Homo sapiens: one gene and its partners. The protein of the gene in region 1 interacts with the protein of each later gene in a biochemical or structural test. Each region holds a gene or a part of one and is shown on either strand. Other genes may lie near its edges.

Region 1 (6,887 bases):
TAGGCACAGCTGTTGTCAATCACATCTGCTCAGTCAATAAAACAAGGACCAGTGAACCCAGTCCAGACTCTGACGGAGGAAGAGAGAGCCTTTGTAGATGCCTGAGAGATATTGGGTGGAGCCACAGAGTGTTTTGTGAAGATCAGATGAGATGAGGGTTTGTAAAGGAGCTGGCACAGTGCCTGGCACACAGTAGGACCACAATAAATGGTAACATGGTTGGAATTTTCACCCTACCACTAACCTGCTGTGTGGTTCAGAGCTTCAGTTTCCTCATCCATAAAACATAAGTAATAATGATACCCACTTCCCAGATTAACTTACTAAAAGGGAACAGCATAAAGCCCAGCTCTCACTAAAGATGGGTCTGTGACAGGTCTCTGCCTCCCTTCTCACAAGGCTCCACTTACTTGCCCAGCAATAGGTTTATTGCAGGAGCCACAGAGGCCTTTGGCCTGGGTGGGAACACCCCGGCGGCTGAGGTCGGACTGCAGCAGCCCCAGCATGGTGTCTAGGCTGCCCTTGCCAGTCGGCTCTGGTGGGGATGGGGAGCCCTCATTTGTGGAGCTCACCACCGGTGGCTGAGTTGGCCCAGAGGCTGGAAGCTGCAGCGGGGAGGACATGAGAATTGAGTCAGCAAAGCAGCAGATGTGGAATTGTCTAGAAGGGGTTGGGGAGCCACAAATGGACACTGGCCCACTGCCCAACTCACATGGTTTTGAACGCGGAAGTCAGAGAGTGAGGCCATCAGTCTATCCAGCTCCAGAGTGGCTGAGGTGGCAGAAGCCTTTGGGAGGCCAGGAGACGGGCTGGAAGGGCTGTGAAGAACATGCTTGTGTCATCTCAGAGCCTCCCAGAGCAACGCTCCCTCTAGTGACTCAGATATCCAGGACTCATCTCTCAGCCCTGACAACGACGCCAAACTCACAGGCTGGGTCTTTTCTTATCTTCAGACTGGTCCTCCTTCTGCTCTCCTGAAGCCACCTTGCTAGATGGGAACTGAGACATGATTTCATCTGGAGAGAGGAGAGGAGGACGCTACATATAGGGCCATGCTCAACGCACCCTCACACTTGAGGCTTTAGGTCCCTTTAACTGCTACTCTGGGAAGTGTATTCCTCTTAGTCTCTGCCCCACCCTTCCCTCCCCTGCCCCTATCGCATCAAGGCCTCTCTCAGTCACCCTGGTACCTGTGATGTTGAACTGAGTGGCATTAAGTTCCTGAAGCAACCGATCTAGCTCACAGAGCCCGGTACCCAAGACACCGCTGGAAGAGGAGAATGGAGGGGCCGCCGGGGCTGCAGGCTTTGGGGACCGAGGCTTGCATACCGTGCTGGGAAGCAGAGTGGGAGCCTGGGTTCAGGGGTGGGGAATCCAAGCCTCCTCACCTGAGACTCAGTTGGCCCCCATGCCCTGGTTTCCAGGCCCCTCACCTGTACAGGTGGTCCTTGTCCCCCGAGGCTCCTGAAGACTCCCCAGACCCTGTCTACAGAGCGGAGACGCACAGGTGGGATGACAGGCCTGCACTCTGCCCCACTGAGGCTGAGATCCCCATAGACCAGGCCGAGCCTGGCCCTAGTGGCTGCCCCAGTCCCCAACATCCGATCTCACCTGTGGCTGGTGGCCATAGGATGGGGGAGGGGTGAGAGGCTCCGCAGGGCGCTCTTTGGGAGCCCCTGACCTTGGCATGTGCGAGGTGGTAGTCTCCAGGTCAGAGAGCAGGGCATCTGCAGGAAGAGGCCATCAGGGAGAGAGACAAGGGTCACGGTTAGATCAGAAGATAAGGTTCCCAGTGGGCAGTACTGGAGAAGGACAGAAGCCAGTATTAAGAGAAGAGGTCACAGGGCCAGAGCCAGGCAGAGCACTGCTCGAAGGGTAGCAAGGAATATTTATGACCAGAATATCCCAGTTGCTCACGCTTGGAGCCAAGCACAAACCCAGCCTCCTGATTATTTTATTCTCCCCATCTTCTCTGATGCAGTCAAAATGGGCTCTTCACCCAAGCCAAATTTGGCTCCCCTCCAAATTGCTCCATTGGCCCAGTGCCTGGCCCTCAGCTTTCTGATTGGACGCTCTCTCTTCCATGCTGGTTAACTCCTCCCTCTACCTACACAGGCCCCGCCCAGCCTGGCCACTCCCAGGCCCCTGAGTCCCGCCCTGGGCTCCTCACTGGCGCTTCGCTGGGACCTGCCTTCTGATTGGCTGTTTATCTGCGGTACAGCGTCAGTTACCCCTACCGAGCAGCGCCCTCTACCGCCAGGGGCCGGAAGCCCCTCTCTCCCGTGGAGCGCACAGCCTTCCAGCCCCAGGCTTCGCAGGGAGGACGAGATACCTGGGTCCCCCTTCCGGACAAGACACCTCTCTCCATCCCTGCATCCCCAGATCCGGGTCTTTTGAGCCCTTTCACTTCCAGAACCCAGAAGTCCTGCCCTCAGTCTTCGTCTCTGAGCACCCGCGTGAAACCCTGAAGCCTTCGCGGGCGCCTAGGCACTCCTGAGTTACTATTCTCTTCCTTGCCTCAAGGACCTGACCCTCACTGTGCTCAGGAGCCCTTAACTCCTCCTCTCCCAAAACTCTGGTGCAGGCAGGCCCGCTTTTTTTCTCCAAAACTTGATGCCAGACTTTCCCGTGCCCTCTACTTTCCCGGTCCCCGGGCCGAGGCCCCTTTAACCCCTCCCTCCCCAGAGCCCCGCGCCCGGGCGCCCGCGGGCGCCGCACCTCCCGTTCCATCTGCCGCAGCCTGGGATGGAGGAGCACAGCGAGGGAAGAAGGGAGGGAGCGGCCGGCCCAGGAAAGGCAGGAAGGGAGAGGCAGGAAGGGGGACGTGGAGTTGGAAAGGAGGCGCGGGCAGAGGCGAAAAGCAGAAGTAAGAAGACAGGGATGGGGAGATGCGGGAGAGCGACGGCGGGGAGGCAGCTCTGGGCAGCGGTGAGGGGCCACGGACCCGGGGATCCGGCCCCACTCACCCAGGTCCTCCATGGCGGGGCGCGGGCCGGTGGCGCGGGGCGAACAGGGCGGGGGCCGTGTCCGGTGGGGGCGGGGGGCGGGGGACGTCCGGGAGCTGGAAGCCCGGCCGTGACCATGTAAGGAAGCCGGGACCCGCTGAGATGGGGATGGGGGGGCGATGAACGGGGGAACCCGAGGTGGGGGCGTGGAAAGGAGGGAGCGCCCCGGCCCACCCGAGCCCAGCCCGCCGGCCTGCCGCGGAGGCGGCCACACCCCAGCCTTGGCCTCAGCTGCAGGGAGCCCCAGGAGGCCAGAGCCAGAGAGAAGTGGCTTCTCCAGACCAAGCCCCAGAGCCGCTCCCTAGGGAGACTTACAGACACGGACTGAGGCCCCCAAACAGACACCGCTCAAAGCTAGCGCCTGAGTCCTAGACAAGAGCCTCCCTCCCACCCATGCCATTCCTGGGAGACTTGTCCCAGACGGAATTTTTGGATTGGTAGCAGGAGTGATATTCTAAGGCTCAATTAGACCTCAGGTTCGGAGACCCTCCCATCGGAGACCCTGACAGATAAATAGAGGCCCCAAGAGGCATACATACCAGACACAAAGAAATCTGAGGGACGGGGACAGACACAGTGAACCCACCCACAGACTCTACACTAGGACCTTCCCTCCAAGACTTGGTCATGGACACACGTAAACTCGAACCCGGGCGCAAGCCCCTTGCAAATTCGGGGAAAACACTCCCAGGCAACCAACCCCCAGCCAGCCTGCAAGACAAAGCCCTTCCTCAGCACTGAGGTGGCCCAGGCCTGCTCTGAAACAGCCCTTTCCCAAGTTACTGATGAACTCAGAGCAGAAAGCAAGACACAGTCTCCAGCCACAAAGTGGCAAGGCCTTCCCTGGACTGAGACCCTGAGAAACGAGGTGGAAACGAGAGGCCATAGAGGTAGTTATGGACAGACAACTGTGCTGCAGCCACTCTTCTGGACAGATCTGAGCACTGGAATGTGAGTATCAACCCAGCAGCAAATCGGAACAACCTGGGGAGCTTTTTAAAAATGCGAGACAGGCATGGTGGCTCACACCTATAATCCTAGCACTTTGGGAGGTCAAGGCGGGCAGGTCACTTGAGGTCAGGAGTTCGAGACCAGCCTGGCCAACATGACAAAACCCCATCTCTACTAAAAACACAAAATTAGCTGTGCGTGGTGGTGGGAGCCTGTAATTCCAGCTACTTGGGAGGCTGAGACAGGAGAATTGCTTGAAACCTGGAGGCAGAGGCTGCAGTGAGCTGAGATTGTGCCACTGAACTCCTGAGCAACAGAGGAGACCCTGTGTCAAGAATAAAAAAGAAAAAGAAGAAAAAATGGGCAAACGACCTGAATAGACAGTTCAAAGAAGTTATATAAATAGCCAATGATTACATGAAAAGATCCTCAACATCATTAGTCCCCAGAGAAATGCAAATCAAAACTACAATGAGATGCCACATCATACCTATTAGGATGGCAATAACAAAAAAGACAGGTAATTAGGCAAGGAGCAGTGGCTCACACCTGTAATCCTAACACTTTGGAAGGCCGAGGTGGGTGGATCCCCTGAGGTCAGGAGTTCGAGACCAGCCTGGCTAACATGGTGAAAACAGTCTCTACTAAAAACACACAAAAAAATTAGCCAGACATGGTGGTGGGCACCTGTAGTCCCAGCTACTTGGGAGGCTGAGGCGGAAGAATCCCTTGAACCTGGCAGGTGGAGGCTGCAGTGAGCTGAGATCGTGCCACTGCACTCCAGCCTGAGCAACAGAGCGAGACTCCATCTCAAATAATAATGATAATATTTTAAAGGCCAGGCTCAGTGGTTCACGCCTGTAATCCCAACACTCTGGGAGGCCGAGGCGGGCGGATCACCTGAGGTCTGGAGTTGGAGACCAGCCTGGTTAACTTGGCAAAACCCCGTCTCTACTAAAAATACAAAAATTAGCTGGGTGTGGTGGCAGGCACCTGTAATCCCAGCTACTCGGGAGGCTGAGGCAGGAGAATCACTTGAACTCGGGAGGCAGAGGTTGCAGTGAGCAGAGATTGTGCCACTGCACTCCAGCCTGGTGACAGAGTGAGATTCCGACTCAAAAAAAAAAAAAAAAAAAGCTGAAAAGAAAGAGGTAATTAGCAAGTTTTTGTGAGGATATGGAGAGATTGGAACCCTCACACATGGCTGGTTGGAATGTAAAATCGTTCACTAACTTTGGAAAATGGTCTGGCAGTTCCTCACATGTTTAAACATAGAGTTATATGATCCAGCAATTTCCCTTCTAGATATGTAACCAAGAGAAATAAAAGCATATTCCACAAAAAAACTTGTACATGAGTATTCATAGCAGCATTATTCATAATAGCCCGAGTGGAAACAACCCAAATGTCCGTCAACTGATGATTGAAGAAATGAAAGTGGCATATCCATGTCTTAGTCTGTTTTGTGCTGCATCGTAGAATGCCTAAGGCTGGATAATTTATAAAGAATAGAAATATCTTTCTTTCAGTTCTAGAGGTTGGGAAGTCGAAGGTCAAGGGCCCTGCATCTGGTGAGGGCCTTCTTTCTGCCTCATCCCACAGCAGAAAGCAGAAGGGCAAGACAGTGCAAGAGAGGGGGTGGGGTGGGGGCAGAACCCATCCATTTATCTATCAGCTGTCCACTCCCTTGATAACTAACCTACTCATGCAATAATGCCATTAATCCATTCATGAGGGAAGAGCCCACATAACCTAATCACTTCTTAAAGTTCCCACCTCTCAACAGTTGAATTGGGGGTTAAGTTTCCAACACATGAACTCTGGGGTACATGTTCAAACCACAGCAATCCATAAAGTGAAACTGTATTATTCCTAATAAAAAGAAATGAGATGCTACAGTGTGGATGAACCTTGATAACATTAAGCTATATGAAAGAGGCCAGATATGAAAGATCACACATTGTATGATTCCATTTATATGACATGTCCAGAATAGGTCATCTGTAGAGATACGATGTAGATTAGTGATTGCCTAGGGTTGGGGGAAAGGGAGTGTTATGGACTGAATGTTTGTGTCTCCCCCACATTTATACATCACAGTTCAACCCTCAGTGTGACTATATTTGAAGATAGGGCCTGACTGGGCGCGGTGGCTCACGCCTGTAATCCCAGCACTTTGGGAGGCCAAGGCAGACAGATCACCTGAGGTCAGGAGTTCGAGACCAGGCTGGCCAACATGGTGAAACCCCATTTCTACTAAAAATACAAAAAAAGTTAGCCGGGCATGGTGGCACCTGTAATCCCAGCTACTTGGGAGGCTGAGGCATGAGAATTGCTTGAACCAGAGAGGCGGAGGCTGCAATGAGTCAATATTGTACCACCACACTCCAGCCTGGGTGACAGAACAAGATTCCAAAAAATAAAATAAAATAAAATAAAATACCGATGCCCAGTCCAATGTGAGCAAAAAGACCCCAGGCATCAATAGTTTTTCAAAGCTCACTGCTTGGTTCTAATGCATAGCCTGAAAACCAGAGACCTGGACCAACACTCACAGAGGCTCAGAGACAGCAAGTGCCAACCTCAGCTGCCCAGAAGCAAACCTTGGCAGGCCCAGTGCAGCTCTCCCCAAAATCAGGCTGCCACTGAGGAGTCAAAAATCTGCAAGCCAATTATTAAACAGTAAAAGAGCAACAGATGTTGGCATGAATGTGGAGAAAGAGGAATACTTATACACTGTTGGTGGGAATGTAAATTAGCTCAACCTCTCTGGAAAACAGCATAGAGATTTCTCAAAGACCTACAACTAGAACTATCATTTGACTCAGAAATCCCACTAACGAGCATCTACCCACAGGAAAAGAAATCATGTAAAAGACAGCTGGACTCATTGTGTTTATTGCAGTACTATTCACAATAGCAAAGTCATGG
Region 2 (7,024 bases), on another chromosome or scaffold:
GATTTTAAAAAGCCATTCGCAAACATAAAAACTGTTGTTATTGATGTGGCACGCACCTGAGAGAAATAAAATTCCAGTGGGGTCCCTTCCTGGAGGTCACGGCTCAAGGCCAGGCAGAGTGTGGTCTGCAGGCTGCCTGCATGGGGGCCCTGCATGCGTCCTGGGGTAGTACACGCTCCTGTGGGGGCCCTGCATGCATCCTGGGGTAGTACACGCTCCTGTGGGGGCCCTGCATGCGTCCTGGGGTAGTACACGCTCCTGTGGGGGCCCTGCATGCGTCCGGTCCGGGGATAGGACACGCTCCTGTGGGGGCCCTGCATGCGTCCTGGGGTAGTACACGCTCCAGTGGGGGCCCTGCATGCGTCCTGGGGTAGTACACGCTCCTGTGGGGGCCCTGCATGCGTTCTGGGGTAGTACACGCTCCTGTGGGGGCCCTGCATGCGTCCAGGGATAGGACATGCTCCTGTGGGGGCCCTGCATGCGTCCGGGGATAGGACACGCTCCTGTGGGGGCCCTGCATGCGTCCGGGGATAGGACACGCTCCTCTCAGGCCGTTCCCTACACCGCAAGGACCCACAGGCTGCCTGAGTGGCAGTAGCCTGAGCTGGTTTCAAGGAGTTTTATTTCTCTCTGCTGCAAGAACATAAACAGAATTTCCTGGTGAGACATACCAGGACCCCCATCCTCCAATGCCTCTGAACAGACTGTGTGTGCAATGTGTCAACTGAACGCTCAATTTACGGCCTCTGCTGGGAGCCACGCATCGGGAAAGGACTTTGCATGAATTTGTGGTTTCCTCCATTTCACCTTCTGCACAGCTAAACCAAGCAGGACACTTGGCTTTTTAATATGGGCAAAGTAAATGGTCTAGGAAGCTACTGTGAGCACGGGGATTCTCAGCAGGTGCGTCTACAAGGATCGTGATCCCCGCCTGAGAACACAGTGCCCCTGGGGCAGCCTCAGAGCCGGGAGCAGGGAGCAGGGAGGGAGGGAGCCTCACACAGACAGCATGAAGTTAGACGTTTTTCTGCCCTGCAGGGACAACAACGGGGTGGACCTCGCTGCACAGATCTACGTCGTTATTACAGCAACACAAGACACGGCGAGGTGCGCTCCCGGCACGGAAAGGTGTAAACAGTCAGAAGAGAGGAGTCTTCTGCTTTGTTGTTTGTGTTTTCAGTAGAGGTTGAAGAGTAGAAGTTGCCCTCCTTTCTCTCGAAACTTAGATTTCCTTGGTTTGTTCGTGTCTCTCCCATTGCAGGATGACTTCCTGGGGTCTTCGTCTCTGCTCCCTCTACACCTTGAGCCAGTGGCGGAGCTGGAAAGAAAACAGGTTTAGTCAGAAACCCTGGGGCGATGCCCCATTTAAGAGCAGCTGAAGGTGGCTAAGAGCAGCTGAAGGCAGTGAGCAGACAGTTTGCAGCCTCCTGGCCATGTGCCCTGGGAGAAGGGGAGGCTCACTGGGGGCCTGGACCAACACACCCTTGACAGGTGCCGGGGATCCGATGCCTCACTCAAACTCCTACAAATCAATCATTACTTGATTTTTTAAAAAGCCGCGAGACTGTGGTTGGCGTGGTGGCCATGGTGGCCTCTGGGGCGTATTGATCAGATGCTGAGTCTGAGAGATGCCGGGCACCCTCAGTCCGGGGCTGGTTCCAGATTGTACCCCAGCGACTTGGGTGTGACGTGGTGATGTCACCTCTCCCCCACGTCCCTCCACCTTCCTGGGGGCCTCAGATGCTCCATCTGAGTGACACGCTACCTCTGCAGCTCCATCTTGCTCTCTGCGACCCGCGCGGGCGCAAGTGCAGCGTGTACTGACTGCTCAGGGACTGATGAGATAGACAAGAGCAGCTATTTACACCACCAGCAAATGTCATCGCCTGCTATTATGCAGCTGTTAGTTCAGCCTGTTTGTGAGCGTCAAAGCCCCTCGATAGCACTAAATGGCAAGAAGTGTGCTTCATAAACATTTCCAAACAGGGGCATGCGGGGCTTGCTTCTGACAAAACCACGCCGGCCATGGAAAGCCACTGAAGCTACCACTGGCCACACCACAGGCTCCTCTGGCCACTCCACCAAGAGCCTGCAGGGACCTCCTCAGCCAGGGTGGGATCACACTGCAGGCCAGGGGTCTACCGGGGGCCTGGAGCAGCCACAGCTGATGCCGGCACAGGCAGCATCCAGGTGCAGCTCGGGGCTCAGTGAAGGAAGCTGGGGTCAGGGAGCCCGGCCAGGACCCACAGCCACGGGTGGCCCAGCGGCCAGAGCCCTAGAGCAGAGGCTCTGGGTGGCAGCCCCACTTCAGGCCAGCGATGAAGAAGCCATGCTTGGGACTTCAGCTGTGAGTCCTGTTCCCCCCAGGGTGAAGCAGTTCTCTGTCCTGCCCGCTGACAGAAGCAGAAGGTCCCCTCTGGAGGGAGGTGTGCTTGGGGGCTCCCAGATTCCCACAGATTAAGATCAAGCCATAAATGTAAAATAAAGACTAGAAACAGAAGACAGCAGCCCACTCTAAGTGAGTCCCCAGAAACCAGACCTCAATTTGACCCCAAAGGACCAGAGCTGTTGCAACAGATTACAGGATGGCCACATAGGGGACTCTCAGAAAAGTGACACACGCACATCACAGTGATGAGAATTTCACAAGAAACAGCAGAGCACACGCAGCTTCCAGAGATGAAGTAGAAAAGAGAATGGCTGGGCTGCAGACCAGGGGCAGGGCAGTGGAATGCGGAGCGTCCATAGCTGAGCTGTGGTTTGTTCACGTGACGGACGGTCAGGGACCAGTCACGGTAGGTGAAACGTAGCTATGGATACAAACATTTCTGACCTAGATGGAATAATAGGGATCGAATTTACCCTACTGTCCGAAACAAGCCCCAAATAAACAAAACACACGTGCCGATGACCTTCCAGACCATGGACACCAGACCGTAAGGGTCAGTGGTCCCTGAGGGAAGCCAACAAGGAGGCCCCCCTGCCACCCTGCTCGCTGCCTCGAGGGAGTTTCTAGATTGCAGCACAGGGAGGGTGCAGCCTGGTGGACTCCCTGAGCTGAGACGCTGGAAAGGAGAGCGAGGGAAACGGAGGTGGCTGCAGTTTGCAGGCCAGAGCGCCAGAGAGGAGGTGGCCACACAGAGAGAAGACCCGGGACAATGGCCCAGGACCCCTGCTGAGGGTTCAGACGAGCACATCCCGCTGTGAATGAGGAGGCTGGGGAGAGATCCGCCGACAGGACCAGAGGGAACCACCTCTGATGCCCACACAGGGCTGGGCACGGTGCCTGTTCCCCCAGCCAGGAGAATGTCATGATTCTCGGGGATCTGCATGGGGTGTGCATAAGGTCTTGCTTCAGTAGGGGTTGGTTAGGGCTACACCAAATGCTGAAGCCAAATAATACACTTTTTAGGAAGCTAGAAATATCTAGAGATGCAACAAATGAAATTGTAAGAAGGGCAAGGGAAAGATCAAGCTAGACGCAGATACAGAATGGGTGAGGGGCAGGCAGTTTCCACAGTGCCTAGTTTTCCTGCTGTGGGCTCACAAGGGTCTGTTTGTTACGGTGACAAATTAATAATTTAAAAATGGCCACATGTGGATTAATGATAAGATGCGTTACTCAACTGTGCACCTAAGATTCAAATGAAAACAAAATCTAAGTGAGGTAAGAGACCTGGAGGACCTGGGGCAAAGTGGACACACCAGAGCCTCATAATGGAAAACACAGAAAGGCAGAAGGCAATCTTTCAGTGTGTGGCTGCAAAATTCACAGAATGACAAGATTTGTGAATCCACAGATCTGGCCACAAAACATATCCAGAGAGGAAAAATAAAAAGAAACCAAATTAACGGTGGTGGGTGCCTGCAGTCCCAGCTACTCGGGAGGCTGAGGCAGGAGAATGGCGCGAACCCGGGAGGCGGAGCTTGCAGTGAGCCGAGATTGCGCCACTGCACTCCAGCCTGGGCTACAGAGCGAGACTCCGTCTCAAAACAAACAAACAAACAAACAAACAAACAAAAAAGAAACCCAGGTCCCGACACTCCGCAGTGAACCCGAGACACCGAAAGCAGAAGAAACTCGGCCGAGTGCAGGGGTGAGGACAGAGCCCACCACAGAGCAGGCTCACAGGCCACACATCTCAGCACAGCCACGGAACACTGCTGCCTCCAAAACGCAGAGATAGTCCCTGTCAGCCTAGAGCCCTGAGCCCACAACAGTGCTTTCGTGAATGAGAGCAGCATAAAGATGTTCCCACACACCAATAGTGAGGGAGGTTAGCAAGAGACCTCCTCAAAGGAATGTCTGAAGGATGCTTTTTGAAAAGCAAGAAAATGGTCCTAGAAGAAAAGAAGTCTATAACAAAAGTATGGGAACCAACAAACACCAAGCATGCACATTAGTCCAAGGAACATGATGAGTCCGTACAAAATAATAACAGGAACAAGAACAATGACAGTGTCTAATTTGTGGGTTAAAAAGAGAGAAATAGATTTGAACAATCATAGCATGTTCATCAGTAGGAGGAAGATTTAAGTCCTTATAATGGGATGGGGTTAAAATATGGTTTCTCTGTAGAGTTTAAGTGAAATATGTATGGTACAACCTCAAGAGTAGCTATTAAAGGAATAGAATAAGTCCGGGCACAGTGGCTTACGGCTGTAATCCCAGCACTCTGGGAGGCAGAGGTGGGCAGATCACTTGAGATCAGGAGTTCGAGACCAGCCTGGCCAACATGGTCAAACCCTGTCTCTACTAAAAACACAAAAATTATCCAGGTGTGGTGCTGGGCACCTGTAATCCCAGCCACTTGAGAGGCTGAGGCAGGACAATTGCTTGAACCTGGGAGGTGGAGGTTGCAGTGAGCAGAGATCATGCCACTGCACTCCAGCCTGGGTGACAGAGCAAGACTCCACCTCAAAAAAAAAAAAAAAAAGAATAAAGTATGTAAGTTCTAAGCAAGTAGAGAGAAATAAACGGAATAATAAAAATGAGTGAACCAAGAAAAATCAATCTATAAAAAGGCAATAAAGGAGAAAAACACTAAAAATGGGACAAATGGAATAGAAAGATAGTAGAATCAAGTTCAAATATATCAATAATCACAACAAATGTAAATGGATTAACCTGTCCAACTGTCAGCGTAAAAAATTCTAGGTGTATGCTGGGTTTGCAAAAGACACTTAAATCTTAAGGTTACTGCAAAGTTGAAAGTTAACAGATTGCAAAAGATATTTCAGGCAAACTCAAAAGACACCTTGGTGCAACTATATTTGTCCCAGACAAGTCAGACTTTAAGACCAAAAGCATCATTAGGGAGTGAAGATGGGTTCATGTCACCAGGAAGAGATGATCATTCTGGACATGGATCAACCTCAGAAAACAGCCTCAGACTACAGAGAGCAAAACCTGATAGAACTGAGGGGAACAGCAAACAAATATACTATCGAGGAAGAATATGCCACAGGCATCTCTCAATTACTCATGGTCAAGCACCCCTAAAGTTGACAAAGTGTAGACAATGTGGGTAACATAATATATAACCCTACTCAAATGGACAGAAGCAGAACTGTGTATTGACAATTAGAGAATAGCACATTCATCTAAAAGATGTGCAACGTTTATCAAAGTTGATCAGGTATAAGGCCCTAAAGAAGTCTCAATACATTTTAAATAATAGGTATCATATGTGTTTGAGAACAATGAAATTAATTTGGAAATTAAAAACAAAAAGATGAGTAAAACATCCCCATATATTTGGCAATTTAAAAGCAGACTTTTAAGCAAGTTATGAGTTGACAAAGTCACAATGGAAATTAAAATATACTTAGAACTAAAAGATAAAGAAAAATACTATGAAAAAAATACGGAATGTAGCACATGGAGTATTTTGAGGGAAATTCATAGCCTTGAGTGCTTACATTAGAAAAGAACGAAGGATGCAAATTAATAACCTAAAGTCCAAATTAAAAAGTTAGCAAAACTACAACAGAGTAGATCCAAGAAAAAGAGAGGAAGAAATGATAAATACAGGAGCTGAGATTAATGTGACAGGAAGCACAGCAAGAATCTCACATGAAGTCAAAGTTGGATATTTGAGAAGACTAGCAAGATCCTGTACAAAGTGTAAGACCCCCAGGTATAGGACTCTCAGAGGAGAGAGGCTCTGGTGGAGCAGGACCGGAGGCCCAGTGGGGAGGGGCTGGCATCCTCTGGATGGATGGGATGGGATGCCTGGACACGCCTCCTGTGTTTGGAGCAGGCAAGTCACTGGGAGGACAGAGGAAAGGGTGCCAACGGAGGGAGGCAGAGCCCACACCAGAACCTGACTTGCAGGTAGGAGGAACAAGCTGTGCAGATGTGTGCTCAGAGGCGGCTTCTCCCCACTGCCTCCCGGCCTGTTCCCTGCTCAGCGTCTTGTTCTGCCTGACGTCACCACCCACCTCCCAGGCACGCAGAGCCCCCTCCCTCTGCCTGTATCCTTGCTCCTGCCCCATGTGCAGGTCCATGCTGGGCTCCTCAGGCATGAGCTCATGAGACCCCTGCTGGGAGGACTGTTTACGAGAACCAGCCACAGAGAGGTGGCCAGAGGGAAGAGGCAGGTCCGAGGTGGGGCCGCGGTGCCCTCCACACTATGGCCTTCTCTCCCTTTTGCTGTGCATTGGACTCTGCTGTCGGCATTAGGCTGACATTAGTGTATGGAATCAGGTCGGGGCTGAGGCCACTCTGGGGTGGAGGAGGACAGTGCCACAGGCCCAGGGCACAGCCCAGGCTCCTCTCCTGCTGGCCAGCTCTGTGATCTTGGGCACATTCCGGGGCCTCTCTGGGTCTCAGGGACCCTGGTGTAGAGAGAGTGCTGGGCTGCCTCTTAGGGTTGTGGGAGTAAAAACACGTCAAGTGTTTACTGTGTGCCCCCGGGAATGCACCTGCTCCACGGCATGTCATGAACATGTTCGCACACAGCTGGATGGCTCCCAGGGTGCAGGAAACACCTGGCGTGACCATCCTCTCACTCGAAGCCAG
Region 3 (7,024 bases), on another chromosome or scaffold:
GACCCAGAAGCTGTATTTTCTTGCGTCTCCAGCTAAATAAATGTAGGTGGGGCAAAAGCAATCATACTCACCTCATGCGTGTTGAAAATTGACAAGACCTATGCATAGCCATCAGGTGTGGTAAAATAGCAGAGTATCATGGCAGAACTGTGTGTTCATTTAAGAACAATGGGCAAGGCTCAAGACAAAATAATACAGGACCGTCGCATTTCTTTTTCTTTATCCCACCCTCCCCAACCTGAGAGTTCACACACAGGATTGTATTCTTATATTTTCTTTCTATTCCTCCAGTGAAAACTCAAAGATCAAATACACTCATTTACCTTAAGCCATAATAAAGCTAACCAATGAGGCTTACTTAATGCACTCTCTTTCCCAAGAGCTAATTTTGTTTTTACTAGTGAAAAACCTGTATATAGCTTCAGTCAGCATTCTCAAAGTACAGCCATGTGCCACTGTACACAAAATCTTTAGCAATAAATAAATGAAGATTTTTTAAAAAACTTTAATAGCTATATCTTTATCTGTTTTGGAAAAATAACTAGTATTTCCAATGTTATTTCAGTTATTGCTGTTTAAGACATGACTGAGGTACACAGTTAAGTTTAAAATGAGTCAGATTTTAAAAGTGAATAGGACACATGTTACATAGTATGGCAAAAATCATGAAAGGTGTTAAGCAATTGAATCCTGTTTGGGAAACACTGGCTTAGGCGTTTCATAACGCAAATGACCAAAGCTTTCCTTTTTGGACACAAAACATCATCAGTAAGCTCAGTAGAGAAGTCACTTGCCAGCTGACTTCTCTACTGAAGATTCCCTTCAGGCTTGGAGAACTGAATGATGTCTGTAGAGTGACAGGAAAGTCATGGGAGAGAGTCATTTCTGTATACATTATCTTTGCTCAATAAGCATCATAATTCTTGATAATGAGTGGAAAAGGTTTCTTGCATTTTTTTGCATTTTTAAAAACTGATCTAGATATTTGTGACAGGAATTTTTAGAATGTCAAGAAAGCTCTCTGATTTTGTTTAGATGACATGTTAATTTGTCTAAATTTTTATGTGTTTAATTTAGATGTTGATGTTAGTGAAGATTCACCTCCTCCCCTACCTGAAAGAACTCCTGAATCGTTTGTGTTAGCAAGTGAACATAGTGAGTGTCTCTTTTGCTTTTACATTTACTTCATATTCTAATAATAAACTCCGAAAAACATACCTGATTTTAATCTATTAGCTATTGTGCTACATAATTAAATTCAAAAACAAGTAAATTGATGTTGACATGCTTTTAATTCTTTGTTTGAAAAATGCTTTTAAATTATATTTTTTACTTGCTAAGATCGATAGAAATTACTGCATTTATGTTAGATATCAGAATTCAATTCATTTAAATGTAATTATAGGCTGGGCATGGTGGTTCAAGCCTGTGATCCTAGCACTTTGGGAGGCCTAGGCAGGTGGATCACCTGAGGTCAGGAGTTGGAGACCAGCCTGGCCAACATGGTGAAACTCCATCTCTACTAAAAATATAAAAATTAGCTGGGCATGGTGGTGGACACCTATAATCTCAGCTACTTGAGAGGCTGAGGCAGGAAAATGACTTGAACCCGGGAGTTGGAGGTTGCAGTGAGCCGAGATTGCGCCATTGCATTCCAGCCTGGGCGAAGAGCAAGATTTCGTCTCAAAAAGTAAATAAATAAATAAATGCAATTACAAAGCCAGGTGCAGTGGCTCATACCTGTAATCCCAGCACCTTGGGAGGCTGAGATGCACTGATCACCTGAGGTCAGGAGTTCAAGACCAGCGTGACCAACATGGAGAAACCCCGTCTCTACTAAAAATACAAAATTAGCCAGGCGTGGTGGCGCATGCCTGTAATCCCACCTACTTGGGAGACTGAGGCAGGAGAATTGCTTGAACCTGGGAGGTGGATATTGCAGTGAGCCGAGATCACACTATTGCACTCCAACCTGGGCAACAAGAGCGAAACTCCATCTTAAAAAAAAAATGCAATTATAAGTGTATTTGCAATCTGGTGTATTTTCATTCATTAAAAATAGCACTTATTGACTCATGCCTGTAATCCTGCCACTTTGGGAGACCAAGGCGGGCAGATCACGAGGTCAGGACATCAAGACCATCCTGGCTAACACACTGAAACCCTGTCTCTACTAGAAATACAAAAAATTAGCTGTGTGTGGTGGCATGCACCAGTAGTCCCAGCTGCTCGGGAGGCTGAGGCAGGAGAATCGCTTGAACCCCGGAGGCAGAGGTTGGAGTGAGCCGAGACCATGCCACTGCACTCCAGCCTGGGCAACAGAGCAAGACTCCATCTCAAAAAAAAAAAAAGTAGCACTTATTTATGAAAACATTAATTGCTTTCCTTAGATTTAGGTCAGTAAACATTTCTGTTGGGTGGGCGTCACTGGATTGGTGTTAACTGAAAGACATTTAACACCACTGGAGTAGACTGAGCACATTGGCTCATACCTGTAATCGCAGCACTTTGGGAGTCCAAGGCGCGAGGATTGCTTGAGCCTAAGAGTTTGAGACCAGCCTGGGCAACACAGTGATACCTCCTCTCTTCTAAAAATAAAATAACTGTCCAGTTGTGGTGGTGGGCGCCTGTAATCCCAGCTGCTTGGGAGGCTGAGGCAGGAGAATTGCTTGAACCCAGGATGCAGAGGTTGCAGCGAGCTGAGACCACGCCATTGCATTCCAGCCTGGGCAACAAGAGCAAAAAACTTTGTCTCAAAAAATAATAATAACAACAAAAAATTAGCCAGGTGTGGTGGCATGTGCCTGTAGTCCTTGCTACTCAGGAGGCTGAAGAAGAAGGATTGCTTGATCCCTGTAGTTGGAGGCTGCAGTGAGCCATGATCGCACCACTGTACTCCAGTTTGGTAACAGTGAGACCCCGTCTGTGGAAGAAAAAAAAAAGACCACTGGAGTATCAGAACTGGGAGAAAGTGATGATACTTTAAAACATTGATAATATACTTCTCCCTATTAATCCTCTAAAAAAGAGTGCAGAAACAGCTTGATTGTATTTACAGTGTCTCATGCTCAGTGGAGGTGCTCACTTGTCTAAGTACATTTTACCAATATATTAATTTTGACTGATTTTTGTTTTGTTTCATTTGGTTTTCTTTTTATTTATTTATTTTTTATTTATTCATTTTTTTGAGATGGAGTCTCATTCTGTCGCCCCGGCTGGAGTGCAGTGGCACGATCTCGGCTCACTGCAAGCTCCACCTCTTGGGTTCATGCCATTCTCCTGCCTCAGCCTCCCATGTAGCTGGGACTACAGGTGCCTGCCACCACACCCGGCTTATTTTTTTGTATTTTTTTTAGTAGAGACAGGGTTTCACCGTGTTAGCCAGGATGGTCCATCTCCTGACCTCATGATCCGCCCACCTCAGCCTCTCAAAGTGCTGGGATTACAGGCATGAGCCACCACGCCCGGCTAATTTTTTTGTATTTTTTTAGTAGAGACAGGGTTTCACCATGTTAGCCAGGATGGTCTCCATCTCCTGACCTCGTGATCGCCCGCCTCAGCCTCCCAAAGTGCTGGGATTACAGGCGGGAGCCACCACGCCCGGCCTTGTTTTGTTTTATTTCGAGTTGGAGTTCCACTCTGTCACTCAGGCTGGAGTGCAGTGGCACGATCTGGGCTCAAGCTGTTCTCCTGCCTCAGCCTCCTGAGTAGCTGCGATTAGAGGCATACACCGTCACTCCCAACTAATTTTTTTATTAGAGATAGGGTCTCACCATGTTGGCCAGGCTGGTCTTGAACTCCTGACCTCAAGTGATCTGCCTGCCTCAGCCTCCCAAAGTGAATTTTGACTGATTTTAAGATAAATGTTAAAGAGCCAAGCACAATGGCTTATGCCTGTGATCCCAGCACTTTGGGAGACCAAGGCAGGTGGATCTCTGTTCCATTTGCCCTAGGAGTTTGAGACCAGCCTGGGCAACATGGCAAAACCCTGTCTGTATAAAATCAAAAATTAGCCAGGCGAGGTGGCATGCACCTATAGTCCCAGCTACTCAAGAAGCTGAGATGGGAAGATTGCCTGAGCCTGGGAGGTTGAGGCTCCAGTGAGCCGAGATCGCGCCTGGTCAACAGAGTGAGACCCTGTCTCAACAACAATTAAAAAGAATGTTGAAAGCAATGAAACGGTATACTTCAGTTGTCTAAGTCTGTCACGTTGTCTGTAGATTAAGCAGTATACTTCACTTGTCTGTCACATTATCTATAGACTGTAATACACTGATGACTGAATTTATTTACTTAGGTTTTGAAGGAAGGAAACAGAATGTTCTCGAATTAATAGAAACTACAATTTTTTTTTTTTAGAAACTTCAGAAATATGCTTACCCAGAAACTACAAAATTTTTGTGGAAGCGATAGTTTCTAAAATCTTTAGGATCTGTTTTTTGTATTACTTTAATGCAAAGAAATTTCAGAAATTCAAGGTGTTAATAACAATAAGATTTCATTTTTCTCAGATACACCTGTAAGATCGGAATGGAGTGAACTTCAAAGTCAGGAACGATCTGAACAAAAAAAGTCTGAAGTAAGTCCTTTTGGAATTGGAACAGTTATAGCTTAACATTTCTACTCTTTTGTTAACTAATCTTGCAGTTGTTGAAATAGCTGTCATCTTAAGATCGTTAAATATAGTTTGTAATTTTTGATCGGCATTTCTTATACTAAGATTTCAGATGAAAAGCCCATATAAAAGGTAGGTTCTGAAATTTTTTAAAAGGGTAACCTGATCTACATACAACTATCACTTTAAAGTATTGTTTTCTCAAGCTGTTTTTGAAATATGTAAATTATGCTTCAAATAATTTTGAAGGTATGAATGAAATAGGAGTTACTATTTTCAGGGTCCTAATTCTTTCTTACATTTCTAGATGCTTCCCATTATAACACTAGGCACATAGTCGCTTCTTTTGTTTTTTTCTGGCTACCTGGCATTTCTTTGACATTCGAGAAATGTTTTGGCAATTAAATATTTTGAGGGCGTGGCATGGTGGCTCATGTCTGTAATCACAGCACTTTGGGAGGCCAAGCAGAAGGATCACTTGAGCCCAGGAGTTCAAGACCATCCTGGGCAACATGGGGAGACCTTATCTCTACAAAAATTTTTAAAATTAGCCAGGCGTGGTGGCGCATGTCTATGGTCCCAGCTTTTTGGGAGGCTGAGATGGGAGGATTGCTTGGGCCCCAGAGGTCAAGGCTGCAGTGAGCCATGATCACACCACTGCACTCCAGCCTGAGTGACAGAGTGAGACCCTGTCTCAGCAACAACACATTTGTCCATAGGAGATAACATTTTTTATTAACATTAATACTTTTTGTATTTTCTCCCATACTTTAATATCTCTGAAATTTAGCTACATCTTATATTTGATTTTAAGACATGATGTAGTTTAATTGACATATAAAATACAATAATGATATAATTAGTAATAGTGGCTGGCAAAACACAGCTGTATGTTCCTTCATGCAGTAGCCCATGCTTTTCAGTGCTCATCCAGAAACATTTACTCCAAGGAGAAATAGCATAACATTTTAAAATTTTAAGCCTAATTAAAAAACAATTGTTTGCTTTTCCTCTGATGCTGAAAATGATAGGCCTTGATTTCTTGGGATATATACCCATAACAGACCCAGCTTTCTATTATTTGTATATAAAATGAATGTATTGTAATAGGTATTAAATGTCTTCCTCGTAGGGCTTGATAACCTCTGAAAATGAGAAATGTGGTAAGTTGTTAGATTTTTTTTTTCCTTTTTACTGTAGATTTTATTGATTAATTTCTACAAAATAACATGCTTCATAGTTCATGCTATATAGTTATTTCTGTATGTGAAAATGTCTAGGACAACTCTTGTAGAAGCTTAATATTGTACTATAATTCTTCCAAATTAATTATTACCACCAGATAGTAGTATTGATCTGGAAAATCATGGGAGCATTTACTATCAATAATTACAGGCTAATGGGAAAGAGATTTTTTAAAAATATTTTTCTGTTTTTTATTTTCTGTTTTTAAAAACACCTAGAAGTTAGATCCCGACTTAAATAAATGATGGAATTGCTTCTGTAGAAACCTATTGTTTTAGAAATCTTCCTTTTAGTACTTTTTCATTTATTTGTGAAGACCAATAAAATTGTGAAAGAATGAATGAATTTTAGTAGTTAACATCTTTTGTTACTAATCTTAAACACTGGTAATTAAAGAGTAAACTACAATCTAAACAACATAAAACTTTAAAAGTGGAGTTATTAGGCCTGGCGTGGTGGCTCACACCTATAATCCCAGCACTTTGGGAGACCCAGGCAGGCAATCACCTGAGGTCAGGAGTTCGAAACCAGCCTTGAGCAACATGGTGAAACCCCGTCTCTACTAAAAATAAAAAAAATAGCTAGGCGTCATGCCATCTGCCTGTAATCCCAGCTACTAGGGAGACTGAGGCAGGAGAATCCCTTGAACCCCGGAGGCAGAGGTTGCAGTGCGCCGAGATTGCGCCATTGCACTCCAACCCGGGCAACAAGAGGGAAACTCCGTCTCAAAAAAAAAAAAAAAAAAACAAGTAGAGTTATTATTTCAAGGTGCAAATAGTGCATTAATTAACCCTGACCTTGTTGATTTCTTAAAATTTTTTTTTTTTTTTTTTTTTTTTTTTTTGAGACAGAGGTCTTGCTCTGTCGCCCAGGCTGGAGTGCAGTGGCGCGATCTCGGCTCACTGCAAGCTCCACCTCCTGGGTTCACAACATTCTCCTGCCTCAGCCTCCTGAGTAGCTGGGACTACAGGCGCCCGCCACCACGCCTGGCTAATTTTTTTGTATTTTTAGTAGAGACGGGGTTTCACCATGTTAGCCAGGATGATCTCGATATCCTGACCTCATGATCGGCTCGCCTCGGCCTCCCAAAGTGCTGGGATTACAGGCATGAGCCACCGCGCCTGGCCTGACCTTGTTGATTTCTATACAAAGACATTTCAGTTG

The links. Proteins that work in one complex are often made in the same cells at the same time.
Region 2: the proteins of TGFB1I1 (region 1) and SLC6A3 form a complex in vitro, tested with the Homo sapiens proteins (one study listed by BioGRID).
Region 3: the proteins of TGFB1I1 (region 1) and PTPN12 form a complex in vitro, tested with the Homo sapiens proteins (one study listed by BioGRID).

The regions. Positions count from the first base shown.
Region 1 is NC_000016.10:31,468,281-31,475,167, reverse strand, and holds the start of TGFB1I1 (transforming growth factor beta-1-induced transcript 1 protein), read right to left. Parts: upstream 3,017-6,887; 5' UTR 2,980-3,016; coding exon 2,967-2,979; intron 2,961-2,966; exon of another isoform or gene 2,945-2,960; intron 2,766-2,944; exon of another isoform or gene 2,719-2,765; intron 1,964-2,718; exon of another isoform or gene 1,918-1,963; intron 1,728-1,917; coding exon 1,612-1,727; intron 1,487-1,611; coding exon 1,434-1,486; intron 1,334-1,433; coding exon 1,191-1,333; intron 1,017-1,190; coding exon 929-1,016; intron 819-928; coding exon 713-818; intron 606-712; coding exon 411-605; intron 1-410. UniProt on the Homo sapiens protein: Functions as a molecular adapter coordinating multiple protein-protein interactions at the focal adhesion complex and in the nucleus. Links various intracellular signaling modules to plasma membrane receptors and regulates the Wnt and TGFB signaling pathways.
Region 2 is NC_000005.10:1,393,441-1,400,464, forward strand, and holds part of SLC6A3 (sodium-dependent dopamine transporter), read right to left. Parts: intron 1,319-7,024; coding exon 1,295-1,318; 3' UTR 1-1,294. UniProt on the Homo sapiens protein: Mediates sodium- and chloride-dependent transport of dopamine. Also mediates sodium- and chloride-dependent transport of norepinephrine (also known as noradrenaline). Regulator of light-dependent retinal hyaloid vessel regression, downstream of OPN5 signaling.
Region 3 is NC_000007.14:77,631,271-77,638,294, forward strand, and holds part of PTPN12 (tyrosine-protein phosphatase non-receptor type 12), read left to right. Parts: intron 1-1,077; coding exon 1,078-1,155; intron 1,156-4,495; exon of another isoform or gene 4,496-4,511; coding exon 4,512-4,579; intron 4,580-5,747; coding exon 5,748-5,778; intron 5,779-7,024. UniProt on the Homo sapiens protein: Dephosphorylates a range of proteins, and thereby regulates cellular signaling cascades. Dephosphorylates cellular tyrosine kinases, such as ERBB2 and PTK2B/PYK2, and thereby regulates signaling via ERBB2 and PTK2B/PYK2.